4 linked regions of the Homo sapiens genome follow. The protein of the gene in region 4 interacts with the protein of the main gene of each other region in a biochemical or structural test. Each region holds a gene or a part of one and is shown on either strand. Other genes may lie near its edges. The genes, in order: PARP10, RAD51, SHPRH and RAD18.

The links.
Region 1: of the proteins of RAD18 (region 4) and PARP10, one has a biochemical effect on the other in vitro, tested with the Homo sapiens proteins (one study listed by BioGRID).
Region 2: the proteins of RAD18 (region 4) and RAD51 form a complex in vitro, tested with the Homo sapiens proteins (one study listed by BioGRID).
Region 3: the proteins of RAD18 (region 4) and SHPRH form a complex in vitro, tested with the Homo sapiens proteins (one study listed by BioGRID).

The regions. Positions count from the first base shown.
Region 1 is NC_000008.11:143,983,454-143,990,976, forward strand, and holds the start of PARP10 (protein mono-ADP-ribosyltransferase PARP10), read right to left. Parts: upstream 3,008-7,523; 5' UTR 2,907-3,007; coding exon 2,905-2,906; exon of another isoform or gene 2,819-2,904; coding exon of another isoform or gene 2,781-2,818; coding exon 2,602-2,780; intron 2,523-2,601; coding exon 2,268-2,522; intron 2,196-2,267; coding exon 1,959-2,195; intron 1,876-1,958; coding exon 1,091-1,875; intron 979-1,090; coding exon 757-978; intron 652-756; coding exon 555-651; intron 359-554; coding exon 1-358. UniProt on the Homo sapiens protein: ADP-ribosyltransferase that mediates mono-ADP-ribosylation of glutamate and aspartate residues on target proteins. In contrast to PARP1 and PARP2, it is not able to mediate poly-ADP-ribosylation.
Region 2 is NC_000015.10:40,712,150-40,719,174, reverse strand, and holds part of RAD51 (DNA repair protein RAD51 homolog 1), read right to left. Parts: intron 371-7,025; coding exon 276-370; intron 1-275.
Region 3 is NC_000006.12:145,954,334-145,961,358, forward strand, and holds part of SHPRH (E3 ubiquitin-protein ligase SHPRH), read right to left. Parts: intron 1,022-7,025; 5' UTR 990-1,021; coding exon 357-989; intron 1-356. UniProt on the Homo sapiens protein: E3 ubiquitin-protein ligase involved in DNA repair.
Region 4 is NC_000003.12:8,897,458-8,904,482, forward strand, and holds part of RAD18 (E3 ubiquitin-protein ligase RAD18), read right to left. Parts: intron 5,064-7,025; coding exon 4,923-5,063; intron 1,591-4,922; coding exon 1,437-1,590; intron 1-1,436. UniProt on the Homo sapiens protein: E3 ubiquitin-protein ligase involved in postreplication repair of UV-damaged DNA. Postreplication repair functions in gap-filling of a daughter strand on replication of damaged DNA.

The sequences.
Region 1 (7,523 bases), on a different chromosome or scaffold from region 4:
TGCACCACCAGCTGGGCCTTGCCATCAGTCCCCCCATCTGGGGGCTCTTCTGCCTCCAACGGGGGCTGCTCCAGCAGGGAGAGGGTTAGGGCTTGCCGCAGGGCAGCAGCCTCCTCCTGCTCAGCCACCTGACCTTGAGGCTCCAGTGACCGGTGGAGGGCCAGCTGCAGAGCGGCCTCCTCCTCCAGCCACCTGGGTGCCACAGTGCTGGGGGCCACAGGCTCCTCCTCCTCATGCCCTGGGGTCACCTCCTCCTCTGGCTGCTCCTGAGGCCCTTCCTCCTCCAGCTCCCGAGGCAGCCAGTCCTCCCCGTCTAGGTCTAGGCCCTCCAGGGTGGCCAGCAGTTCTCGGACCTCCTCTGGGGGCAGGGAGAGGCCATTGGGTCAGGGGCTGGACCCAGGAGGAGTTGGAATGGATGAAAGATGGGGAGCAAGTTTTTAGGGTACAGGGTGGGCCTAAGATGGGTCAGTAGACAGATGGGAGCACAGAGCAGGGCAGGGGGTGAGGTCAAGTGAGGGCCACAGGATGTGCTGAGGGCTCCCAGGGAGCCCTACCCAGGCTCACGTCCTCCTGGTCACCACCTGTACTGTCTGGGGTCCACAGGGTGTGGGCGTTGCCAGGGAGCACTGGGAGGGCCTCGGTAGGGTCCACCTGTAGGGAGAGGATGTCAGGACCACTAGCCTCTGGGCAAGGGCAGAGGAGGCCTGGGGCAGAGGCGTGAGAAAGGGGAGGGCAGGGGTGGGACTCCATCTCTACCTCTTCAAGGCCTGTGTCCAACGTGGCTGTGGCCAGGCGCTCTGTCCCAAAGACACACTGGAACTGAGCCTCCAGCCCCTGGAGAAGGTGCTGCCCTTCTGGGCCCAGGAGAAACCTGGCGCTGCCCGGGTGCTCCAGGCACAACACATGGCAGCTAATGCTGCCCAGCAGGCTCCGCAGAAACTCCTCAGCCGCCTGGCAGGAAGCCTGGGCTCCACAGAGCTGCAGGGCCATTGCAGAGATGGAGTTTGCAGGTTTAGAGCACAGGAAAGGTACTTTGAGTCCCCAGTAGGAGGAGGGGGCTGAAGGTGAGGAGTCCTGAGGGGTCACTCACCCGAAAGCCAGTCATATCCGGTCCTTCAAGTGGCAAGAGAGCGACGTCTCCCAGGCCCGCAAGAAGGTCCTCATGGTAGAGCTGCAGGAAGCGCATCGCCCCTGGCTCCATCAATAGCACCATCTCCACCAGGCCCTCCTGCCCTGCCAGCTTCACACATCCTGGGCTCACAGGCCCTGCCTTCTCCAGAGACCCCATGGTGATCTCCATGGGACCCACCAGCCCCTCTTGCTCTGGTGAGTCCATGGCAATTTCCACCAGGCCCTCCTGCCCCAGCAACCCCTTAGAGGTCTCCACTGGGCCTGCAGACCCCACAGGCCCCAGGCTCATGGGCCCCTCCTGTTCCTGCAACCCCACAGGCCTCAGGCTTACCAGCCCCTCATGTTCCAGAGACCCCATGGGCATCGAGCTGACTTGCTCTGCCTGTCCCAGAGACCCCATGGGACCTGTCCTCAGAGAGGTCCCTGACTGCCCTGGTTCCTGGCCAGAGCCTGTTGTCATAATCCCTCTACCCTGCACCATGGGACCTGTCCTCAGAGAGGCCCCTGACTGCCCTGGTTCCTCGCCAGAGCCCATTGTCACAGTCCCTGCACCCTGCAGAGCCGTCACCAACCCTCCGGTCCTCAGGAGAGCATGCTTGGTAGCCCTAGGCCCCTGGGTGGACGGGTGGTCCCCTCCACTGGTGTTCTCAGCCAGCTCCTCGGGCTCCAGGATGTCGTAGTGGGGGACAAGGCTCAGCTCTGAGCCCTGCAACCGGTGCTCCTGCTGCAACACTCGTTCTGCCACTTGGAGGAAGGGAAAGGACAGAAAGCCTGTCAGATTTCTGCAGGAGAGGGACGGTCGGCTGGGTCTGCCCAGCCCCACTCACCTTGCCACTGCTGGAAGGAGGCAACAGTGCCCAGGGGCCCGGGTAGGCGTTGCAGGTCCTCCAGGGGCCCCCCACCACTGCGGCGCTCATTCTCCAGGTACAACTCCAGCAACAGCAGGTCCACAGAGGCACCATCCCCCACCACACGCACCGCTCGGGCCTGGGGAACCCGGGCCAGGGACACCAAGGTCCCCTCCAGGCCCAGATTCTGGGCCTGCTCCTCCAGGACACGGACATCTGTGGGGTATGTGCAGGTCAGCTCAGGGAATCCCCCCTAGCCAGCACCTCAACCCCAACCCTGCCTCTCACCTGCCTCAGAAAGGGGCTTGGGCAACTGGACCAGAGCCCGGTCTGGCCGGGGGCTGGCCAAGGCACAGCAAGGCTGTACTGGGAGCCCCGAGGCCCGCAGCAAGGCCTGGACATGCTGCTCCAAGCGCTGGGGCGTGGTGCCAGGGGGCAGTCCTTGGAGCAGCAGGCGTGCAGGGGCTCGTGGTGGAGCTGGCCGCAGGCTCAGCTGGGCACCATGTAGTTCGTGATCTGCCTGGGCCAAGACCCTCTCGGCGTCTGTGGGCAGGGGCGGGGCAGGATGTCAGGCATTAGAATATCAGGGCACCCAGGCTGTCCCTTCAGCCAGCCCTCTCACCTGCAGGCTCTCTGAAGGTGAGGACGCCCCCACAGCCCAGTCTCTGCCAGCTCAACACAGGTCCCCCTCCAGAGCGTCGGCGGTTTTCAAAGTAGAGAGTGAGCAGCTCGTCGGGCACGGCAGGGGGCAGTCCACGGACCTCCACTGCCACCCCTGCCTCTGCCTCCGCCATTGCAACCCTGGGACGGGGCATCAGGTGGGTAGGGAAACAGCCCATTCCACCCCTCCTGCCCCTCCCCAGGCCCCTCCAAGGTGTGTCCTCAATGCTCCCCCATTATGGGTGGCCCCACATACAGCACTTACATTCCCCGTGGCCGCTAGGCAGCCTCAGGCCATGAGCTCAGCCAGGACTCCTGTGCCTGCCCCTCAGCAAGCCTAACCCTGCTGGGAGCAGGAAAACAAAAGTGAAACTGAAAGACGGAAGGAGGGAGGGAGCAGCTGGGCCCTGGGCGCTGAGGCCTGGGTACTGGGGCTCAGATGCTTCCTCTCCTGCTGCAGCCTCAACCCCCAGCTGACCAGGAGGTATTGGCCAGGCTGGACCCCTCAGGACCCTCCAGCCAACCCAGCCCAGCCCACCGGCCCTACCTGGCCCACTCCAGCCCCTGGTTGGCAGGGTAGACAGGAGTGTCCCCTGGTGGCCCTCCACTCCCCTGGCCTCCATGGCCTGAAAATGGCCAATCACCCGCCCCACTAAACCCACCAAGGGGCCTGAGTCACTGCCCCTCACTCAGGATCTCCAAGCCTCTGTGTCCATGACACCCTCTGCACACAAAGTGCTGGGTCTCCAGGCCCGCCCCCGGCCAAGGCTGGCCTTCAACGCCCCCAGCAACCTTCTCAACCCTGCTCCTGGTCCCTCACACCTGCCAGGTGCTGAGCATGGGCGGTTCCCCACCCTTGGTCTCCAAGAATGTGCATTGCAGCACAGCCTTCCTCCCGCCTCAGGTCTTGCCTGCCCATTCCTGCAGCTTTCTGTCCTGCCTGCACCTCCCCATCTCACACCATCATTGGCATCGTCACAAGTAACCTCAGAAGGTGACAAGGTAATGGCTCCACTGCATTCCTTGCTGCCGCTAATCCTCACCACAGAAAGGGAAACGGAGGTGCAGACAGGCCCATAGCAGCACCAGGCCTCAAACCTGGGCGGTGCCTTCAGAGTCCACACTCCCACTCGCCACAGATCTCCCACATCACCCAAGCTCCGTTTGCTTCCAGCCTTTCAAAGAGCTGTGGCCACTACCACTCTCCATCTCCTACTTCCCACTCACCCCTCAGCCCACCAAAACCCAGCCCCACCCCTGCTGTTCCTCCCTCCAGGGAGCTGAGGACCCTGGCCAGCCTGCACTCCTAGCCCTGCACATGCCACACCTCTGCTGCCCCGACCCTGGTCCCAGCCTCCAGCATCTCTCGCTAGGTAGCTAGGCTAACCTCTTAACTAGTCTCTGTCTGCCACTCCCATGGTGGGTCCTCAACAGAGGTGTCAGGGTGAGCCTTGTAAAATGACACCAGCAGCTGCTACAGCTCCCAGCATCAGCAACAGTAGAAACCAAAGTCCTGGGGGCCGGGCGCAGTGGCTCATGCCTGTAATCCCAGCACTTTGGGAGACTGAGGCAGGTGGATCACGAGGTCAGGAGTTTGAGATCAGCCTGGCCAACATGGTAAAACCCTGTCTCTACTAAAAATATAAAAATTAGCCGGGCATGGTGGCAGGTGCCTATAATCTCAGCTACTCAGGAGGCTGAGTCAGGAGAATAGCTTGAACCTGGGAGGTGGAGGTTGCAGTGAGCTGAGATCGTGCCACTGCACTCCAACCAAGGTGATAGAGTGAGACTCTGTCTAAAAAAAAAACAAAAACCCAAAGTCCTTTTGAGGACCTGCCCCCTGCCCAGCTGCACCTGACCAGACCTCAGTCCCTTCTCTGGCCCCATGCCCCCTGCACACCCTGATGCTCAGAGGGCTCCAGGCTCTCAGCTCTTCCTGCAGAGCTACAGGCCACTCCTGCCTCAGTAGCCTGGGACTGGCCCTTCCCTCTGCTTGGCCCTACCTTCCCCACAAACCCCCATGGCCACCCCTCTGGCATGATCTCCCTTACTCTGCCTTTTTTTTTTTTTTTTCTGAGACGGAGTTTCGCCCTTTCACCCAGGCTGGAGTGAAGTGCCGTGATCTCGGCTCACTGCAACGTCCACCCACTGGGTTCAAGGGATTCTCCTGCCTAAGCCTCCCAAGTAGCTGGGATTACAGGCACGCACCACCATGCCCAGCTAATTTTTGTATTTTTAGCAGAGACAGGGTTTCACCCTATTGGGCAGACTGGTCTCAAACTCCTGACCTCAGATGATCCACCTGCCTCAGCCTCCCAAAGTGCTGGGATTACTGGTGCCAGCCACCATACCCAGCTATTTTATTTTTATTTACTTATTTATTTATTTTTTGAGACAGAGTCACACTCTGTTACGCAGGCTGGAGTGCGGTGGCACGATCTCAGCTCACTGTAACCTCTGCCTCCCAGGTTCAAGCCATTCTCCTGCCTCAGCCCCCCCAATAGCTGGGATTACAGGTGCACACCACCACGCCCAGCTAATTTTTTTTTGTATTTTTAGTAGAGACGGGGTTTCACCGTGTTAGCCAGGATGGTCTCCATCTCCTGACCTTGTGATCCACCCGCCTCGGCCTCCCAAAGTGCTGGGATTACAGGCGTAAGCCACCGCGCCCAGCAAGCATTTTATTTTTCTTAAAGGTCTCTCAAATTTTGTGAGCTTCTGCTTCTACAAAGGTAGAAGTTACCTTCTACAAGGGTAAATCCATCCCTGCTTTTTCCACGTTTTCTCTAATGGAACTCATCACAGGTTATCCATTACGCCGACCCTGGCTGCAGAGGGCCTGCCACAGGCACCACTCACACCACAAGCAGACTGGTACAGTTTCGGGAATTTCTGTGGACTGGTTGTCCAGCTGGGGGTAACTTGAAACCAGCCCCGGTGGAGTATTCACACCACGCGCATGTGCAAAACACGCACCCCAGGCTTCCCCTCACTAGGTCCGGCTGCTAAACACTGCGCCAGCGCACCATAGGTGCAGGACTCAGAGCGGCCTGGGAGAGGCCGGCCCTCCAAGGGCGGGAGGGCAGGTGGGGTCTGGGCCCCGGGTGGGAAGGCTGGCAGCAGGATGTACCCTGCCTGTGTCAGTCACTGCTCCCCCAAGAGGACTTGGGAGCTAAGCAGGGAGGTGGCCTGGCCTCCAGTCCTGCTGCATCCCCAAGCCTCAGCCCCTCGCAGCTTGTGAGGACGTTAGGCAGACAAGCGAGCGTTCAGGGTCTCTAGTGTGAAAACAAGACATCGTATTTGTTAGTACAAAGGGTGACTGTGGTCAAGAATAATTGTACATTTTAAAACAACTCCAAGAGTATAACTGGATTGTTTGTAACACGAAGGACAAAATGCCTGAGCTGATGGATACCCCATTTACCTTGATGTGATTATTATCCATGGCATGCCTGTATCAAAACATCCCATGTAGCCCGTAAATATACACCTACTATGTATCCACAAGAATTAAAAAAATAAAAAAGGGTCTCTAGTAGCAGGCCTGGCAGAGTTTGGGCTGACAGAGCAAATGGGGCAATTAAACCACGAGGCCTCGATTTGGGAACTAAAGGATTAGGCTTCTTGATTTGGGAGAGATCTGGATGAAAAGAAGTGAACGTCGGGTTTTAAGGCCGAGAACGGACGGTCAGTCCCGGGCAGCTTCAGCAAATCCCGCATTTAGGAATAAATTTCTTAACTACCGAACGGCCAGTCAAATTGGCCAGACCAGACTTCTGCCTCCAGGGGTCTTCAGCGCCCACCGCCCGACCCCACCCCTCGGCAGACAGTGAGAGGCGGGCCTCTGGCCGGAGCGAAGAGGAACACGCAAGGCGGCGCAGCGGGAGGGGTCCGCGGAAGCCCCGCCCACCTGCCCCTCCCACCCCGAAGCTCGCCCGGCCCCGCCCCCTGCCCCGCCCCGTCACAAGGCCCCGCTGCGTCTTCCGAGCCGCAGGCGCAGGCCCAGCTGAGCGGCCGCCGAGCGGGTGCGGGTGCGGGCGCATCGGCCATCACCGCGCGGCCGCGCAGCGGACACCGTGCGTACCGGCCTGCGGCGCCCGGCCACCGGTGAGTCCCCGGCCCGAGCCCAGGAGCGCCTCTGACCCGCTGCGCCGCGCGGCCTGCCGCCCCCGCCCCCGCCCCCACGCGGATCTTGCGCATCCGAGCGTGGCCGCCTCGGGTCAGTAAGTTGGTCCGGCCGGGGCGCGCGGCAGCTCGCGGCCAGAGGTGGCGGCGGTGGTGGGGGCGGGGAGCCGCGGCGGCCTGGAGCCGGAGGGAGGGGGCGGCGCGCTGCGGCGACTGCTGGACCCGTGACCCTGTGCGCCCCCGGCCCGCGGAGGGCCCATCCGCTCTCGGTGCCAGTGCCACGGCCGCAGCCCCTACCCGCCTCGCCCCACGCCCGCTTTGTTCCCCGCACGCCCCGTGGTCGCTTCCATCCCCCACACACCCCCGCACCCCGCTGTTCCCGGCGTACCCCACTGGCAGGCACCGGCAGCCGATCCAGGCCCGATCCCCCCACCCCGGAGCCAGGGGCCGTTGGGCCCTGTTGTTGGGCTCGCGGGGGTGGGGGGGCTCGGGCCTTTGTTGGTCACAGATGGCCCGGGGATTTCCTGGGATAGAAATAGCCGCCGGCTCCGGCCCCTTAAAGCTGCTTAAGGGGCGGGATGCGGAGGGGAGGGTCCGGGCACACCCCACACGTCCCCGGCCGAGACCCCAGCCTCCGCGCTGAGCTCCCACCCGGGAGACGCCGGCAGCGGCGCAGGCCTCCGGTTGCTTGTGAGAAACGACCCAAGCCCCAAATCCCGAGGCTGGCGGTCGTCCCCTCGCCCGGCCCCTCCCCCACCC
Region 2 (7,025 bases), on a different chromosome or scaffold from region 4:
GAGGTGGGAGAGTTGCTTGAACCCGGGAGGCAGAGGTTGCAGTGACCTGAGATCACGCCACCGCACTCTAGCCTGGGTGACAAGAGCGAGACTCCATCTGAAGAAAAAAAAAAAAAAGAATGCCTTTTTCTACTAAGGAAGTCATTCTTTTGAACCACACATACAACTTTGGGACGTGGGGTTATAGAAGAGACATTCTTCGGCCAAACTAACCCTGGCAATCACTACATTGATAAGTGTAGCCATAGTCTCTCTTATCTAAACCAGTAACCTACCTCTCAGCCACTGCCAGCAGCCGTTCTGGCCTAAAGGTACCCTCAGTGTCAATGTACATGGCCTTTCCTTCACCTCCACCCCGGTCAATGGGAAGCTATAGAGAACAAAAACAACAGTAGAAATGAACATTGTATTTCTGATACAGCTGACCAAGCTCCTCATGACATCTTTATAATTCCTCCAAGGCAAAGGGAAAAAAACATTTAAAAATGACAGTGGTAGGAAGGAGGCATTCCCTTCTGATATTAATAGAAATACAGCTAGAAAAATATGTAAAGCTGATTGTGTCTCAGTACATACAGCTAGTCCTGTCAGAACTGGACTGCTTAGAAATATAGCCCAAAGTAGGTAATAAAATTCTTTTCTTCTTTTTTTTTTTTTTCTTGCGATAGTCTCACTGTTGCCCAGGCTGGAGTGCAGTGGCGTTATCTCGGTTCACTGCAACCTCCACCTCCTGGGTTCAAGCAACTCTCCTGCCTCAGCCTCCTGAGTTGTTGAGATTAAAGGTCCATGCCACCACGCCCAGCTAATTTTTGTATTTTTAGTAGAAACAGGGTTTCACCAAGTTGGCTAGGCTGGTCTTGAACTCCTGACCTCAGGTGATCTGCCTGCCTTGGCCTCCCAAAGTGTTGGGATTATAGGCACGAGCCACTGCACCTGGCCTTTTTTTGTTTTGGAGACAGGGTCTCACTCCGCCGCCCAGGCTGGAGTGCAGTGGTGCAATCTTGGCTCACTGCAACCTCTGCCTTCCGGGCTCTGGAGATCCTCCCATCTCACCTCCCAAATAGCTGAGACCATAGGTGTGCACCACCACACCCGATTAAATTTTTTTATAGATAGGGTTTTGCCACATTGCCCAGGCTGGTCTTGAACTCCTGGACTCAAGTGATCTGCCCGCCTCGGCCTCTTAAAGTGCTGGGATTACAGGCGTGAGCCACCACACCTGGCCAGTAATAAAATTCTAGAACTGCATACCAACACAAGACTGATCAATTCAAAAGTACAGAAACTTGGAAGACCATTTACCTTAGCTTTAATCAATAATGGGCCATGATCCAAAGCCCAGTTAATTTTAGCATGTCTATATCAAACTTATACTTCACTTTATTGAGCAGTTCATTCTTTAGGGGTACTAAAGGGACTAGTCAATGCCCTCGGAGTGTCTATAGCAAATTTCGAGTGTGAGCAAGAAAGAAGAAAAAAACATATTTACTCCAATAGTATAAACAAGATGTTTAAAATGAACAATTGGAGAAAACAGAAAAATAAGTAGAAAGAATTTTAAAGAGAAAACAAAAAGGAAAGAAAAGAGAAGTAAATGAAATGCCATGAAAACTGTCTTATGAGCCACTCAAGGAAATCTCTGCTTTAGACTACCCATTCCATACCAGATACCTTTGAATTTTTCTACAAAGTTTAAGTGAATGATGCTAAAGGGTAATTTCTACTCTAGAAATCTACTTTGGAGTCATAATTCCCATTTAAATTATGAGGAAAATCCTTTAGAACATTTTATGTTAAAGGCCTAGGAGAACCAAATTTTTTCTTTCTTTTTTTTCTGAGACGGAGTTTCGCTCTTGTTGCCCAGGCTGGAGTGCAATGGCATGATCTTGCCTCACCACAACCTCTGCCTCCCGGGTTCAAGGGATTCTCCTCCCTCAGCCTCCCAAGTAGCTGGGATTTCAGGCATGCACCACCACGCCCGGCTAATTTTGCATTTTTTAGTAAAAATGGGGTTTCTCCACGTTGGTCAGGCTGGTCTTTAACTCCTGACCTAAGGTGATTCACCCACCTTGGCCTCCCAAAGTGCTGGGAGGCGTGAGCCACTGCACCCAGCCCAAATTTTCTTTCTTATCTTTGAGAATTTTTTTTTGAAATTACAAAACAACTATATGCTTATATTAAAAATCTAAACAATATAAAAGTAGAGGGCCGGAGGCCAGGCGCAGTGGCTAACGCCTGTAATCCCAGCACTTTGGGAGGCCGAAGCAGGTGGATCACCTGAGGTCAGGAGACCGAGACCATCCTGGCTAACATGGTAAAACCTTGTCTCTACTAAAAATACAAAAAATTAGCCGGGCGTGGTGGCGGCCACCTGTAGTCCCAACTACTTGGGAGGCTGAGGCAGGAGAATGGCGTGAACCTGGGAGGCAGAGCTTGCAGTGAGCCGAGATCGTGCCACTACACTCCAGCCTGGGTGACAGAGCGAGATTCCATCTCAAAAAAAAAAAAAAAAAAAAAGAAGTAGAGAGGCCAGGCATGGGGGCTCACACCTGTAATCCCAGCGAGTGGATCACCTGAGGTCAGGAGTTCGAGACCAGCCTGGCCAAAATGGTGAAACCCTGTCTCTACTAAAAATACAAAAATTAGTGGGGCGTGGTGGTGCACACCTGTAATCCCAGCTACTCGGGAGGCTGGGGCACAAGAATCACTTGAACCTGGGAGGCGGAGGGTGCAGTGAGCGATATCATGCCACTGCACTCCAGTTTGGGTGACAGAGTGAGACTTTGTCTAAAAAAAAAAAGAGGAAGTGGCGGAGAAAAAACTGAAAGCTCTTCACCACTCTCCATCTCCCAGAAATAATTTCCCAGATTATTTTCTATGCATTTTCATATACTTCTTTTATATAAGTGGTTCTTCCACTTACTATGTGACTGAGAATATTGTTTCCTTTTCTGTAAAATGTAAATAAAACCGACCTTATGGGATTGTTTTAAAAACTAAATAAAATAATTCATGTAAAGCGTTTAGCACGGTACACTCTGAAGACATGATTTTCCCAACCTTTAGGGCACTGACTTTAGTGTATACAGTTACGGAAGGCTTTGTTAATTTGGAAGGGAAAAATTACGTTACTATTTGGCAGATAAAATCTCTCACATCATGGGAATCCATGGAAGGAGCAAAGGACACATATACAACAAAAGAGGGTCATGCCTAAAGAAAGACTTGGAACCAGTGGCCAAGAGGACAGAGAGCAGAATCTGCCTCAGTTTCTTGGAGAGGAGGAAATATTAACACTCTGGGGACTAAGTCCCCAGGAAATAAGATGAACGAAGTTCTCCTTTCTCCTACCTCCAGGTAATATTAAGTGCTAACATGACAGGGGATTCTTTTCCAATTGAATAGACTTCCTTGGCAAAGGAAAGGCCACAGATGATTGGGAATAGGTAGGTAGACTGACAACAGGATAGTGGACAAGCTCCCAGGGTAAGATCATGGGGATGGATTGCATGCTCTGTTCTCCAGCTTATTTGGCCCTTTCTACCTTGCCCTCCCAGTGCCATCATAGCCATCTTCTGTTACTGGATTGGGATACCATCAGGTTAGCTCTTCTTAATAACTGCTTAGGAGCATAATTTAACACTTCTCATTTTATAGTGATGCAGTATGTTTCTAACTTTTACCATTTTAATTATGCTTTGGTATAAATTATTTGTACATTTATCTTTGCATATATGTGAAATGTTCTGTAAGACAAATTTTCTGTCAAAGGGTATGTGATTTTTTTGTTTTGTGGTTTTTTGGTTTTTGGTTTTTTTTTGAGACAGAATCTTACTCTGTTGCCCAGGCTGGAGTGCAGTGGCACGATCTCAGCTCACTGCAACCTCCACTTCCCAGGTTCAAGCAATTCTCTGCCTCAGCCTCCCAAGTAGCTGGGATTACAGGCGCCCACCCCCACGCCTGGCTAATTTTTGTATTTTTAGTAGAGACAGGGTTGCACCATCTTGGCCAGGCTGTTCTTGAACTCCTGACCTTGTGATCCATCCACCTCAGCCTCCCAAAGTGCTGGGATTACAGGCGTGAGCCACCATGCCCGCATGGGCATGTGCTTTTAAAACTGGTACTTATGTTAAATTGTCTTCTCAGAACTGTTTTTATTTTTTAATTGAAATGGGATCTCGCCATATTCCCCAGTCTTGTCTGGAACTCCTGGGTTCAAGCAATCCTCCGGCCTCAGCCTCCCAAAGTGCTGGAATTACAAGCATGAGCCACCATACCCGGCCCAGAATTTTAAAACTACTGCAGTACTTTGAACAAGCATGGGCTAATTCATTTTGTAACCTAACTGTAGCTCTCAACTTTATGACTTTTCTATTAGAGAGAGACCTAACATATAATGGGGTTTTACTTCATTAAATTGAGAAAACAAATGAGAGTAGATAATATTTAGATTTAAGTAATAGTCTAACATCCTCTCTATATCCCTGGTTCCAGCTCTTAGGCTGATGAAATGTAATCTTTTCTATTATTAATTAATTAGCATTCTTTTTCTTTAAAAAAAGTCAACGATCTATATAGTTGTTCAGCCATCTGTAAATGTTATTTTAACAGGCTATATTTACTTGAGAATTTTGCTTTAGTTTATTGTTGACAGACATTATCTGACTACTTAAACATTCTCAGATTAGGATTCTATTTGTACAACTTTGGAGTGTCAGCATGCTATGCTGAGTTGCCATGGCAACTATAGATATTATGTACTGTAGTCTAAATACTTATTCTACATAAGTCCCTGTCAAAACATGGGAAAACATTTCTATTTAAAAAGGTCACATATCATGTCAAATGACGGATGTAAGAGTGACATTTTAAACAGCCCTAATTCCCTTTAGCTATCAAATTTCTAATGGAGCTCACGCAATAGCTATAGCTTCTATAACTTACTCTTCCTCTTCTCAATGTTTCCTCCCTTATTATCATAAAAGGTCTCCTAAGCATCCTCCTCCACCCCTCCCCCTCAGCTCTTTCTTCCTAATGATTATGAGGATCTGGGTGCAGAGGCATTCACCTGTAATCCCAGCTATGTGGGAGGCTGAGGTTGGAGGATTGCTTGCGCTCAGGAGTTCAAGAACAGCCGGTGCAACATAGTGAGACCCAATCTCAAAAAAAAAAAAAAAAAAGAATTTATTTCTGAGGAGAGTTAACAATGGATTAGGTCTACTCGATACTGACATGCTAGCTTGGCTGTCTCATAAGACATATGGCAGCCAGCCAGGCACGGTGGCTCACACCTGTAATCCCAGCATTTTGAGAGACCAAGGTGGGCGGATCACAAGGTCAGGAGATCGAGACCATCCTGGCTAATACGGTGAAAACCTGTCTCTACTAAAAATACAAAAAATTAGCCAGGCGTGGTGGCGGGCGCCTGTAGTCCCAGCTACTCGGGAGGCTGAGGCAGGAAAATGGCGTGAACCCAGGAGGCGGAGCTTGCAGTGAGCAGAGATGGCACCACTGCACTCCAGCCCAGGCGACAGAATGAGACTCCGCCTCAAAAAAAAAAAAAAAAATTGTAACATTTTGGTCTGCAAAGAAAATATCAGTGGAGCAATAAACAATTAAAATGACAACAAAAAGCCGGGCATGGTGGCTCACACCTGTAATCCCAGCACTTTGGGAGGCTGAGGCGGGTGGATCACCTGAGGTCAGGAGTTCAAGACCAGCCTGGCCAACACAGCAAGACCTTGTCTCTACTAAAAATACAAAAAATTAGCTGTGTTGGGTGGCAGGCACCTGTAATCCCAGTTTGGGAGGCTGAGGCTGGAGAACTGCTTGAACCCAGGAGATGGAGGTTGCAGTGAGCCAAGATTGCGCCACTGCACTCCTGCCTAGGCGACAGAGACTCCGTCTCAAATAAAAAAAAAAAAAAAAAGGAAAATAAGAAAAATGGGAGGCTATCAAGCTAGGTTACTTGATGTTAAATTTAAATAAACTTGGGCCAGGCACGGTGGCTCACTCCTGTAATCCCAGCACTTTGGGAGGCCAAGGCGGGCAGATTAACTTGAGGTCAGGAGTTTGAGACCAGCCTGGCCAACATGGTGAAACCTCGTCTCTACTAAAAATACAAAAATTAGCTGGACGTGGTGGCCGTCATGCCTGTAATCCCAGCTATTCGGGAGGCTGAGGCAGGAGAATGGCTTGAACCTGGGAGGCAGAGGTTGCAGCAAGCCAAGATCACACCACTGCACTACAGCCTGGGCAACAGAGCAAGACTCTTTCTCAAAAAAAAAAAAAAAAAAAGAAAAGAAAAGAAAAAAAAACTCAACAGAGTTGAGTCCCGAGGATAGAAAAACACTAGGAAGCCTCTTCTGTAACACTGATATAAGGCAGATTTTGTTTCAGTTGTTTTGATCTCCAACAGTAAGTTGTGCCCATGGCAGAAGTGGGTATAATCTATCTAGATTAAAATAATGCCATGTTTTTCAAAATAACTAAAATTATAATAAAGCTTCAAAAGATTATAACAGAAGAGTTGGTCCATGGGCATGGGCCAGGTTCAAGGATACTTTGTGGACTGGCCACTTATGCAGCACATCCTTAAAGCCAGAGAACATTAAGACTCACTTAGACAAGGAAAAACGGCTCCCCATTACACTGCCTGAAGTTGCAGAAAAGATGAAAGTTTGTTAGCTTTCTCTTCTATATCCTACTCCCTTCCTTTCTCATGGATCTTTCGTTTCCAGATTCCATTTTTACTTCTCTGTGTGACTTAGTTCCACATCTCTCAATACAGCTAGAAATTTTCACTCGGGGTTTGTCACCTCAAACCTGTCATCTCTAAACCTGTACTCATGTTTCCAACAAAACTGTCTTCCCCTCTCAAACACTTTTTAGGTTTACTAAGTTACTGTAATACATTGTTGGGCTGAGGTGTATTTTTTATTGTCAGTCATCAAGCGCTGCCCTTTACAACATCTTTTCCCTACTTCTCTTTATTGTCACTATCTTAGTTTCCTGACCAGCTAATG
Region 3 (7,025 bases), on a different chromosome or scaffold from region 4:
TAATGGGTAGAATTTCATTTGCATTCAATCATACAATTCCAGAGACAAAATCGAAGCATTTGAAAAGGCAAAATAGCAAACAGATAAATGGTTAAATGACTGCTGCAGTAAGAGGAACTGATGATGAGGACCAAAACAAGTCACTGAAAGTAGAGATGGAAGATCTTGAAAAAGTGTAGCCTGAAAATGATTAGTTGTAACATACTTTGAATAGTTATTAAAAGCTTAAAGTGTACTTTGAAACTTAACAATGAAAGGCTTATTGCTGGCTTTTCAGACTTCTCTCACAAGTTAATTTAAAATTGGACTGCCAATGTAGAAGAGCCTCAAAAAAGACACCACAAAAAACTGAGTACCTTGATAATGTGATTTCCTTCTGGTTTCTGATAGAGTTTTATTCTTCTCTTCTTTTGTAGCCACCCCAAATCTTCTAACATTTCACCACTGAAGGATGACTCCACCAGAATACCCTTGTCACAAATACTCATCGGTTCTTTTTTTTGTTTCTCTACATCTTCACCTTTTGAATGAACATAAATCAGGAACTGATTGCTTGACTCTGAACTCATCAATGTAATACTCCTTTCGGAAAAATTTTCAATTAAACTCTGTGCAGGAAGAAGCTGAAGAGTTAATTCTCCTAGAAATGCTTTCCAGGAATTATCAAAATGATAGGGAGAAATCACAATATTTAACTTTACAGACAAAGGGGAAAAAATACCAACAGTCTCTTCTTTTTCAATTGGTTTTGAGAAGCTCACCACTTTTGAACACCTCTTCTTATCTCTGTGAGCCACTTCTTCCTTTAGACTATCACTTAGAATGATATAATGAGCAGAAGAGGTATCTGAACCTGGGCAGGGCTGCTCGTCATCATCACTTATGATGATAGGTTCATTCCTTCTGTCCTCATGCATATTCCAATGAAGCTGCTGCCTCTTTTCCTCATCTACCCTCACTGGAGGAGCACGTTTCCGTCGGCTGCTCATTTTCAAGTTTTCTTGGCTGGTAACTGTGAACTCTAGAGGACAAATGAAACAACAGGAGGTATAACAAGAGATGATTTAGTATTTAAGGGTTACCAGATGAGAAATTCAGCATAAATTCATAGCCCATAAACATAATATGAAATCTTCTGTGAGATATAAGGCAATGAGTAATTTTTTTACCAGGTCATTATGACTAAGGAATGAACATATTAACCATAATCTCATTTATCAAATAAATTCTAATGGTTTTGCTAGTCTTTAATAGTAAAGGCAATTTGTTGTATAAAATAAAATAAATTGTAGAAATACATTTAATAAGCAATATAATAGGAAGGTAAATCTCTCAATCCCAAGTAATTTAACTGCCCCTCAGAACAAAGCCCAACAATACTTAAAAGAGCGAAACAAAATCCAACACAAATGTCTGGCATCAAATCTAAAATTATCAGGCACGCAAAAAAAATGAAAATAAAACAGAAAAATAAGACCCATTACAAGAAAAAAATCAAAAAGCCCCAGAAAAGACACAGATGATATAATTAGCAGAAACAAACATTCAAACAGCTACTGTAAATATTCTCAATATGTTAAAGGTAGAGGAAAACATGAATATGACAAAGAAAAATGATAGATATACAAGTGACTCCTATAGAATTTATGCAGATGGAAATGCAACATCTAAAACGAAAAACACATTGTATGAGATTACCAGCAGATTAGAAATGGCAAAGAAAAAAAGAAGCAGAATAAGCTTAAACAATGGAAACAACAGTAACAACAGAAACTGTCAAAAATGAAGTAGAGATAAACAAAGACTGAAAAAACAATAAATAGAACATCAGAAACCTACTAGACAATGTTAAGGAGTCAAACATGCATAAAACTGGAATCTCAGCAGCAAAGAATGGAAAGGATACAAAAAACTTTTTGAAAAAATCATGCATGAAAATTTTCCAACTTCTATAAAAACCATCAACTCAGAAAACCAAGAAGCTCAATGAAACCCAATCAGGGCAAACATAAAGAACAATCACAATAAGGTATGCCATAATTAAATTACTGAAAAGTGAGGACTTCTCTCCAGATTGGCCCTATTTCTCTGGTTTAGACACTGCTCCCACCCCACAGCTCTAAACCCAGCAAAATATCTTTCAAAAATGAAGGTGAAAAAAAGATCAACAAAAGCCAAAAGGACTTATCACCTGTATACCTACAATCTAAGTAATGTAAGAAGCGCTTGGGTAGAAGAAATATGACATCAGATGGAAATCTGGATCCACACACAAGGAAATAAAAAGCAAAAACAAAAAATATGTGTATAAATATAGTAAACTTTTTTCTTGATTTTTAAATTTCTGTAAAAGATAACTTACTATACTTTCATTCTGAAAATTTTCAAGCATACATAAAAATTTAGAAAATAGTATAACAGTATAATCAGAGATCTATACAGTGTACTATGTTCATGGACTAGAAGACTCAAAATGTTCAGATGTCAATTTCTTAGTACTGACCTATAGAAAAGCAATCCCATTCAAAATTCCAACAGGTTTGTTCTGTAGAAACTGACAACCTGATGTTAAAATTTATACTAAAATGCCTACAATACAGGAAAGTCAATATAATTTTAGAAAAGAAAAATAAAGTTGAATGACTTACACTGATTCCAAGACATATGTCAAAAGAAATAAAAATGGTGCAGTAGTGGTGTAAAGACCAACATATAGATCAAGGGAAATGTCCTGTAGTGGACCCACACATGGATGGTCAATTGATTTTTGAAAGAAGTTCAGAGGCAGTCAATGGGAAAGGTATCCTTTTAGTAAATGGATACCAATATGCAATGAAATGAAGCTTTACCTCCTAAAATGTAAGAATTAACTAAAAATAGATAATAAACTATAAAAGCTAAAACTAAAACTTCTCAAAGAAAACAGAGGAGAAAACCTAAATGACATTGGATTAGCCCAAAAAAAAGGCACAAAAATTTTTAAGCAGGAAACAAAAACCATAGACTATGTAAGAATATGATAAACTAAGTTTCATCAAAATTAAATATTTTGGTTCTTCAAAAGATACTGTCATCAAAATATGACAGCAAGTCACAGATGGGAGAAAATATTAGCAAATCAAGTATCTGATGAAGGATATGTTTGCAGAATATATAAAGAACTCTCACAAATTAATAGTAAGACAAACATTTAAAAAAGTCAAAAATTTTGAATAGACATTTCACCAAAGATGACCTATAAGTGTAAAATAAGCATATGAAAATATTTTCACCAGCATCAGTCATTAAAGCAATACAAATTCAACCCACAAATCACAATGAGATGCCACTATTCATATACTAAAATAGTCAAAAATTTAAAACACTGAGAGTATGGCTCAAACAGAACTGAACTCTCCAACATTTGAACACAGCACAGTCACTTTGGAAAAGTATCAGTTTCTAATAAAATTGAATATAACTTACTATGCAGCCTAGTAATCCCTCTCTTAGGTATTTATCCAAGAGAAATCAAAACATAAATCCACAAAAATTTAAACTTGAATGTTAACAGCTTTACTATTAAAAGCCCCAAACTGGAAGAAAACCCAAATGTCCATCAACTGGTGAATGGACAAATTGTGGCATAGTCACACAATGGAATACTATTCTGTGATAAAAAGAGACTTCTGTAAAATAACCTGAATGAACTGTTAAAGCATTATGCTAAACTGAAGAAAGCTAGATGTGAAAGACTATATACTATATGATTCCATTTACATGAAATTCTAGAAATGGCAAAAACCTGATTGCAGAAAGTAGATGAGTGGTTACCAGGGGCAAGGAAGTATAAAGAGGTGACTGACAGTAAAGGAGCAGGAAGGCAGGCTTTGGGGTGACATAAATGTTCAACACATGATTGCAGAGTATACATCTGTCAAAACTCATCAAATTATATACTTTAAATTGAATTTTCTTATACATAAATTATATCATAAAGTTGATTTAAAGAGCAAAAACAAAAAGATGCACGAGATTTAGAAATTTTAATATTAAGTATAACTTTATTCAATAAATCTGAAAAATCTAGATAAAATGATAAATTATAAAGTGATAAAATTTTGCTAACAAAATACAAATGAACAAAACTGGCCCAAGAAGGAAAATATGAATAGACCAATAACCATAAAAGAAACTAAAGTGACATTATTTACCTGCCTAAGGTCTATCCTCCTTCCCTGATGACTGAACCTTTATTTAGGAACAAGGTGGCCCTATGATTCAAAGGAAGTGATTTCCTTGGCACCTCCAAGGAAGTAGTTTCTAGCTACTATTGGCCAAAGCAAATCCAATAAGGTAGTTATTGGCTGCATGTGACTACTTAACTTTCAATACAGTTATGCATTGTATAATGACATTTTGGTCAATGAGGGACCAAATATTACAGTGGTTCCATAAGGGAGCTGAAAAATTCCTATGGACTAGTGACATCATAGCCATTGTAACATCATAATGCATTTATTTATTTATTTATTTATTGAGATAGAGACTCACTCTGTTGCCCAGCTGGAGTGCAGTGGCGTGATCTCTGCTCACTGCAAGCTCCACCTCCTGGGTTCATGCCATTCTCCTGCCTCAGCCTCCTGAGTAGCTGGGACTACAGGCGCCTGCCACTATGCCCAGCTAACTTTTTTTTTGTATTTTTAGTAGAGACGGGGTTTCATGTGTTAGCCAGGATGGTTTTGAACTCCTGAACTCAAGATCTGCATGCCTCAGCCTCCCAAAGTGCTGGGACTACAGGCGTGAGCCACCGCGCCTAGCCGCATTACTTTATTTTTTAATAAACTTTGTGTAGCATAAGTGTACAGTGTTTACAAAGTCTACAGAAGTGTACAGTAATGTCCCAGGCCTTCACATTCACTCCCTGACTAACCCAGAGCAACCTTCAGTGTTATAAGCTGCATTCATGCTAAGTACCCCACAAAGGTGTACTATTTTTTATCTTTTATACCATATCTTTATTGTACATTTTCTATATTTAAATATGTTTAAATATACAAATACTACGGTGTGACAACTGCCTACAGTATCCAGTACCGAATATACTGTACAGGTTTGTAGCCTAGGAGCAGCAGGCTGTACCATAGAGCCTAGGTGTGTAGTAGGCTGGCGGTACCACCTAGGTTTGTGTAAGTATACTCTTAAGATGTTCACACAACAAACTTGCCTATGATGCATTCCTCAAAACACAGCCCCATCATTAAGTGATGCATGACTATAAATAAAATTAAATGTTATAAACTCAGCTCTTCAGTCTCACTAGCCCCATGTGCTCAGTAGCGCTATGTGACTAGTGGCTACTGTACTGGACAGCACAAATATAGAGCATTCACATAATTGCAAAAAGTCTATGTATCAGACAGTGCTTGTTTAAGTCAATCATGAGAATTCTATTCCCTTAGCCCGTGCTTCACTTATGAATGTGCAGGTGATGGATTAAAATCAATCCTTGGCTATGGTCAACTACTTTTAAAGCATCTTATCCTCTCTTATCTTAGTGGAATAATATAGAAAGCTCTTAATTTCCTAAGTGTTTATGTTTGTCCAGTTTTCCTCAAAGCATAAGCTGGAATACTGAAAGTGGGTCACTCTGCAGGAACTTTAAAAAGTTATGCTATAGTAGCTTATCAGTTAACTACTGCCACAAACATGCTGTGTAACACACTACCTCAAAGCTCAATACCTTGATATAGCAATCATTTATTCTCATAGATCTGCACATTAGCTGAAGGAGGCTAATCTAGGCTAGGTTTCTGGAAAAGCAGTTTGGCTCTGCTTAATGTAGTTCCTATCCCCTCTCCTTGGATCAGCAAAGTAACTCAGGAATGTTCTTTATGGCAATGGTTGAGGTGTATTACTGCAAATCCAATCACACAAGTAGTTTTCAAAGTGCTTAAAAACCACTAAGGTGCCACAGACCAAAGCAAGACATATCCATGGACCCAATGTCAAGTGGTGAAGAAATATACTACACCTCTTTACTAGGTGAAACTGCACATGGCAAAGAGCATGGATATGGGGGGTGGAAGGGTAGAGGGAGTGTTGGAAGGGAATTGGGCCAGTTACACAATGTATCACACTAACCATAATAATATTAATAACATGGTTATTGTGGAATCATTAACTCTGAAAACCCAAAAAGCAACTGTCTAGCAGAGTCTCACATTAGCAAAGCGATGTGGCTTAAAGGTGAGAATGCAATGCTTTGAAGTCTTATATTCATTCTAATTCCAGCTTTGGCATTTACTGACTGTGTGGCATTGGAATAGTTATCCAGTCTTCTGTGCCAATTTTCTCATCTCTAAAATGGGGATGATAGCAGGATTGTGGTTAGAAATAATTTAAGTACAACAGCAGTACTAGAAATTTGGCCTGTATTCCATAAATGGTAGTTGCTACTTATCATCATCCTGAGAACACTCTAAACCAGCAGTTCCCAACCTTTTTGGTACCATAAATGGGTTTCATGGAAGACAAGTTTTCCATGGACCGGAGGAGAGGGGTGGAGTGGAGAGGGGGTTGTTTAGGGATGAAACTATTCCACCTTAGATCATCAGGCATTAGGTTTTAATAAGAAGTGCACAACCTAGATCCTGCGCATATGCAGTTCACGATAGCATTCATGCTCTTATGGTAATCTACTGACTGTTGATCTGACAGGAGGCACAGCTCAGGTGGTAATGCTCGCTTGCCCGCAACTCACCTCCTGCAATGCAGCCCGGTTCTAACAGGCCACGGACTGGCACCGGTCCATGGCCTGAGGGGTGGGGACCCCTGCTCTAAACCACATTTCACAATAACCAAACTGTAATGTCGCAGGATGGGGGACCACAGATTAGTGCTTCTCAAACTTGACTGCACATTAGAATCACCAGGGGAACTTAAAAAAATCCTGATGTCGAGCCAACTAAGTCAGAATGTCTTGGAGAAGGGCCCAGGCACTACTCCCTTTATTTTTTAGAATCCCTAAAAAATTCCAGGGTGCA
Region 4 (7,025 bases):
ATGTCTTCAGCACAGCAAGGCCAAATCTATGTAATATACTCATTAACCCCACCCTGAGAACGCCCAGTTGGACCAGATAAATAAATACCACATAGTATGATGCTACTAAAGGAATTTGGTCTTGACTGGTAGTCCCTTCTAAGTTTGAATCTTTTCCTGATTTCTATGGTATCAGTTACCAGAATCAAATGGGTGTCTCTCTTGACTAAGTTTCAGCGTCATTAAATAACACTGGCAATAAGCAATGATTCTGATAGGTAGGCATTTTAAATCAGTACAATTCATTCAGAGGGCAATGCCTACATATCAGAATAATAAAGATAAGTGGCCAGGTACGGTGGCTCATGCCTGTAATTCCAGCACTTTGGGAGGCCGAGGTGGGTGGATCACTTGAGGTCAGGAGTTTGAGACCAGCCTGGCCAACACGGTGAAACCCTGTCTCTACTAAATGTACAAAAAAAAAAATTAGCCAGGCGTGGTGGCACAGGCCTGTAATCCCAGCCACTTGGGAAGCTGAGGTAGGAGAAATGCTTGAACCTGGGAGGTGGAGGTTGCAGTGAGCCGAAATCGCACCACCGCACTCCAGGCTGGGCAACAGAGTGAGACTCCGTCTCAAAAAAATGAAAAAAAAAGTATTCAATAGAAACAAAGGAAGAGCTTTACCATAGCATCAGGTACATAAGTAGAACACTGGGAAAAATGTAGAGCTCTAACAGAAACTGAAGGGTCTGGTAAATTATAGCGCAGAGACATAACAGAATACTGTACTCATTAAAAAATAACAATTATAAACATAAGCTATTATGTTGGTGCAAAAGTAACTGTGGTTTCAATTACTTTTGTGCCAACCTATAGAAACGTAACATTTATGACATAACATTAAGTGAAAGACCGGAACAAAAACTGGTATGTGTGTGTGCATGCGTGTGTGTGTGTGTGTGTGTGTGTGTGTGTGTAAAATAAACCCTATATATTTTTTAAAATATCTTTTCAAAATGACTCATTACCAAACTTCTCATTTTTAAAGTTTCCCCATCTATTCTATTTACTCAGTTAAATTTTTCATTTCTTAACCCTCCTATGCGCCATGTCTTTCTGATCATTTCTGTTTTCCAATATAGTTGTTTTTATCTCCTTTACTCATCGTCTTGACAAAAATTTCACTGTCTATCATGCTTTCTTTTCCAACGGTAGGAAAAGTATCTACATAAAGGCTATAGAGTAGAGACCAAACTCACCCTGTGATCCCTGCACTACCTTCCCAAATCCTGCCTTGTTATCACTGTGAAGAAGACCCAGCAGTAAAAGGGGACTGAAATGTAAGAGTGACACACCATGCCATGCCTCAAAGCTACATTCTAATTATTTCTGCCTATCTATCTACATGTGCATATGAAGTAGATATTTAAAATAATCAACTACTGCATGTTTCTTACCTATTGCATGAATCTGATTCTGATGAAGAAAGAACTTCTTGAATATCAATACAGCTAGAAGAATCCTCTTCTCTGTCAGGTTCCAATTCCTCTGGGGAGTCCAGCTTTGATTGAGAAAAGTGGTTTGTTACTGAGGTCATATTATCTTCCTGTCCTAGGAAAAAATAAATTTAAGAGTACCTTAAAATCTACAACTTCTGTATGCCTATTACTTCTGCAACACTTAATACTGCCATGTGCACTTAGTAAAGTTGAAGTATATGTCACATAGATTCCAGAACTCTAGTGACAGCCAGAGAGCAAGAATTAACACTACAATGGTGCTATCTAATTATACTGTCCAGCCCATGTTTTTCCAAGATTAATTAGTTTAAAAATAAAATTTATTTTAAAACCAGAAGCAGGAAGAATCTTGTAATTCTAATGAGGCCTCTATTAACATATCACTAAGGAATTCTTGCATATTTCATAGATCAGAGAACACTGACAAACCAACATAAGAAGTATAACCAAAAAAAGACTACAGATTCAACTAATAAGACAACCACAATATTTGCTACTATTATATGATAGTGAATCTATCTGGACATTTTTCTAAACATTTTTCTAGGTTAACTAGAATCTAATTATTCTCTATGGAAAAGGACAACTAAACAGACATAAGGAATATTTCCATTTGATCCAATACACATCACATTTCCGTGCATTCTTTGTCATATTCTCAGATTTCAAGGTCTCTTATTGCAGATAAAAATAAAGACCCCAAAAAGCTGGAAGGATGCAGTGTTTACAAAAATGTGGCATATGGGTATGGCCAATTTTCTACAAATATGAGTGGAAGAATATCTGTGAAAGATTCTTTAGTGCCCAGGATTCTCCCACTCATCATGAACGCTGCTGGGATTTTCATCTGTGCTGTCCTTAACTTTCAGGAACTGAGGAGGTACCTCACATGCAAGCTACATGTGCTAATAATACTACAGAGCTCCTTTCATGTGTTTCCTCACAGAGAAACAGAGCTTTCACACATCACTCATCAAGCACTTGTAGAGGCAAGTGGTCTTCAACAAAGCACACTAAAAATACAATTGTCAAGGTTTGATTATACAGAGAGAATTTATGGGGAAAGAACATAACAAATTCTTCAAAAAACCTTGCCAAGTTCATACAGTTAAATTTTTTTCAGAAATAGTTCTAAGTTTTTGTTACACTGAGAGAACAGCATACTTCACAAGAGTGTAATTCCTAAAAATATGCTCCTAATGTCATCTGGCTGTCAATAAACTATCATTAGCAAAACAAAACAGCACCCTCTAATGTATATCTGGAAAAGGGAAAAAGAATTTAGCCAGGATGACCATCCTGAACCTCTAGGAACTCCTCTTGTAAACAGATACCAGAATCACATTAAGAGGAGCCAATCCCCCAGTCAACTCGGTTCACCCAGGGACTATATTACTCAACTAGTGAGGTGCATGCAAGCAAGCTAGCAAACCAGGGAACAGGAATTCAACTTAAAACAATCTTTTATTTTTGCACATTGTCTGTATTCTTTTCTTACTTCTTCCACTCTTACATACACTTCTAGAAGATATATTCCCTCTTGGGAACAAACAGCATTCAATAATCTGTGGGCATAAAAAATAAGTTATCCTTCCTACTTGCCCTTAGATCTCAGAATGCAGGACTCCAAAATAGAGCCCCGAAGAGTGAGGCTCAGACATCAGAGCTCCCCAGAGACACACAACAAAAACAGGCTAAGTTTTCACTTGAGAGAATATGCAACTTGTTCACTTACATGAGCACTTCAATGTTCTAAAGAGCAACAATTATATTGGTTGTATGATGCTATACAAAATCCATCTTTTCAGTCAGTCTGTGTCTGTCTTCATCTCTCTCACATACCTTACCCTCTCAGACATCTCATTCATGCACAGCAATCTAAAAGCAGCAATCACCTCTGAACCCCGGAAAGAGTAATATTGATGTTCATAAATACATACAAGCCATCAATGATATTCAAGAGAGGTTCAACTAATTAAAAAAACTTTTCTTAATGGGAAATATTCAGTCAGATTTTCTCAAGTGCTAAACTAGTTTCTAGAAATATCCTTTAACAACTGCATGAACAAGTTCGAGTTGTTCAATGACCATGAGTTACATACTGAGGCAGCACTTTATGCACAAATTGTTTATTAGTCACTAGGGAAATGCAAATCAAAACCACAATGACATACCACTTCACATCTACAATTTTTAAAAAATTTAAAAATCAGAAAATAACAAGCATTGATGAGGATGTGAAGAAATTGGAACCCTCATGCTTCGCTGGTGGGAATGTAAGATAATGCAGCCACTATGGAAAAGTTTAACGATTCCTCAAAAGGTTCTAAACATAGAACCAGCATATGAATCAGAAATCGCACTCTAAGCTGAAACTTAAATATCTGACCACCAATGCTCATAGCAGCATTATTTATAAGAACCAAAAGGTGGAAATAACCATAGCAGATAAATGGATAAACAAAATATGACATATACATACTATGGAATACTGTTTAATCAAAAATTTTAAAATATTTTAAAATTTTAAAATGTGCTACAACATTGAAGGACTCTGAAAACATTATGCTTAGAGAAAGAAGCCAACACACAAAGACAAATATTATACAATTCCATTTATATGAGGTACCTGGAATGGGCAAACTCATAGACACAGAAAGTGGAATTGTTATTACCAGGGCTATGAGGCAGAGGGGACGGAAGAGTTGCTATTTCATGAGTGCAAAGTTTGTGCTGGGAATGATGAAAATGTTTTGGATATAGACAGTGGTGATAGTTACACAATATTGTGAATGTACTTAATGCCAATGACTTGTACATTTATGAAGGGTTAAAAAGATAAACATTGTGTTATGTATATTTTACCACAATATAGAAAAACATAATAAGCAATTTTCTTGCGCACTTTCCCCCATTATGATTCTTTTTTGTTCACTGGTCCAAAGCCCAGGCAATAGAATTAAAATATCAATTTCAAATTTTAAAATGGATCAAAGTTAAGGAACGTGCTCTGTATTAGCCTACCAGGTATGTTAACTTTAGACTGTTTGGCAGAACATTTCATCCAAAGTAAACACCAGTGTTCTATCACAAAAATAATTCACTCTCTTTACAGGATCTCCACCAATAAATTCTATATCTAGAAAACATCCTGAAGCTTAAATAACAAAGAAATTTATGATTTATCATTAACTGAAAGGACGATAGACAAAAAGAGATTGTTTCTTCAGGACATTCTTCCAACCACTTTCCCCATAGTAATAAATCTAGTTTACAAACTGCTACATGAAGTTTGTCTAAAAATACTTTTTCTCATTTCAAAGAACTAAGAACTCCAAAGTAAATTTCTTTGGTTTAATTTTTTCATATTAAAAGTAAATAATGAAATTCGACATATGTCTGTTTTTAATTATAGTCTCTTACCCATGCATACAGAAGATAGCTTTTCTGTAGATTCATCTTCTTTTGTTATTGTTACTGTTTTTTGTGACATTCCAGCAATTTTCTTGTATCCTTTTCTAGCCTGATCCACCAGAAGCTGAAATTCACTCTTATGTTTTTTACCTGAAATTCAAAAGATCTTCTCAGTAAAGCTAGGACTATGAAAGTTAACCATCTACAACTGACAAACTGAATATCAAGAGGTGTACAAGGGATGGGCATGGTGGCTTACGCCTGTAATCCCAGCACTTCAGGAGCCTGAAGTGAATGGATCACTTGTCAGGAGTTCGAAACCAGCGTGGCCAGCATGGTGAAACCCCATCTCTACTAAAAATACAAAAAAAATTAGCCAGGTGTGGTATCACATGCCTGTAATCCCAGCACTTTGGGAGGCCGAAGTAGGTGGACCATTTGTCAGGAGTTCGAGACCAGCCTGGCCAACATGGTGAAACCCTATCTCTACTAAAAGTACAAAAAAATTAGCCAGGTGTGGTATTGTGTGCCTATAATCCCAGCTACTTAGGAGGCTGAGGCACAAGAGTCACTTGAACCTGGGAGGCAGAGGTTTCAGTGACCCGAGATTGCACCACTGCACTCCAGCCTGGGCAACAGGGCAAGACTCTGTCTCAAAAAAAAAAAACAAAAAACAAAAAACAGAGGTGTACAAGCTTGCTCAAGAACAGCATCCTTAGGAATCACTTGCAATAAATTTAAAAGCTGCCAAGCATAAGAATACAAAGGGCTGGAGTGTCATGGAACCTTCTTTTTATCTTCTCCCTTCCTCAAATACAAATATGGAAACATGATATTCCTAGTTAGCTACTCTAGGTTTCTTCCCAAACTCCATTCTCTAGAAAGGCTTTTACATAATCATAAGAGCATGAAAGATGCCCGCTTTCTTAAATATATACAAATGATACCATTCTAACTTCCAAGATACAAGAGAACTAAGAGTATTTGCTGAATCTAAAATAGAAGCTTCTAGGAAAGTTGAATCATCATAACAAAGGAATGTCCGTCTACTCCAGCTCTCCTTTTTTTCTTCACATTTCCGGCCGGTTTCCCAGTAGAGCCCCTTTAAGATTCTAAGATCTCTCCCAACCAATTCTACCTTATCTTACGATACTATACTAACTCTAATCTTTATTTACTACCATTTTAACACCTTTGAATATAATTAACCCTGACCTCAAGATCATCATTATTAATGTACCAATCTGTTCAATAAAGAGCAGCCAGTCATCATTACTGTATGGACTTTAGGGCATGTATTTGTGATTCTGAACCATGCAGCTGAGGTCACAGTTTACTTATCTAGCAACGTTAAATACTTAGGCCACAGTCCAAAGTAATGTCATAAATCCTATAAAATTTTTAGGGAGAACCATACTACAAATGGTTAAAACAAAATTTTGACACTGTTTTCATACAAAAATCAACAATGTACTTGTTATCACTTGGTTTCTTCCATTTTCCTTAGCATAATACTAAGGCATAGGGAATTTACTGGGTGTAGGGAAAAAATTGTGCTTCAGTTGAACTATGGCATTGTCTAAATCTACTCTCCCAAGATTCCAGCCATTCACTGCCTTTGAGCTATGGTATAACTCTGTATGTTGTAGATAACTGAGAGCAATGGAAAATAATTCTTGTCTATAGATATGCAAAATCCTGTTGGGTGGAGGTTCAATTGACTTTCCTCCTCCAATGTGGAAGAAGCCAGTTTTTTGCTCATTATACATTCATTTCAATGTTCCTCATCTGTAAATGTGATGATTCTTTGGCTCCTTCTTTGATCACCTCATAATATCAGTCTTCTCTCTACTAATGAGTTTAAATCTTTAATAAAAACACATGTTCATTTTACATCCATATGAGAATGATGTTAGTTGTTTTTGAAAATTATCTTTTAACGCAAAAAGAGAAAACACTAAATTGTGACGCACAAGGAAGAAAATAGTTGGATTCCTATACATGAATATTGACAGGCACAGCAAAGACATTCAGGAAAGAATGCTCCTAATTACAATATTTTTATGTGTATGGTACATGTATGAAAACTTCTAGTGAAACTAATGTTGGGCT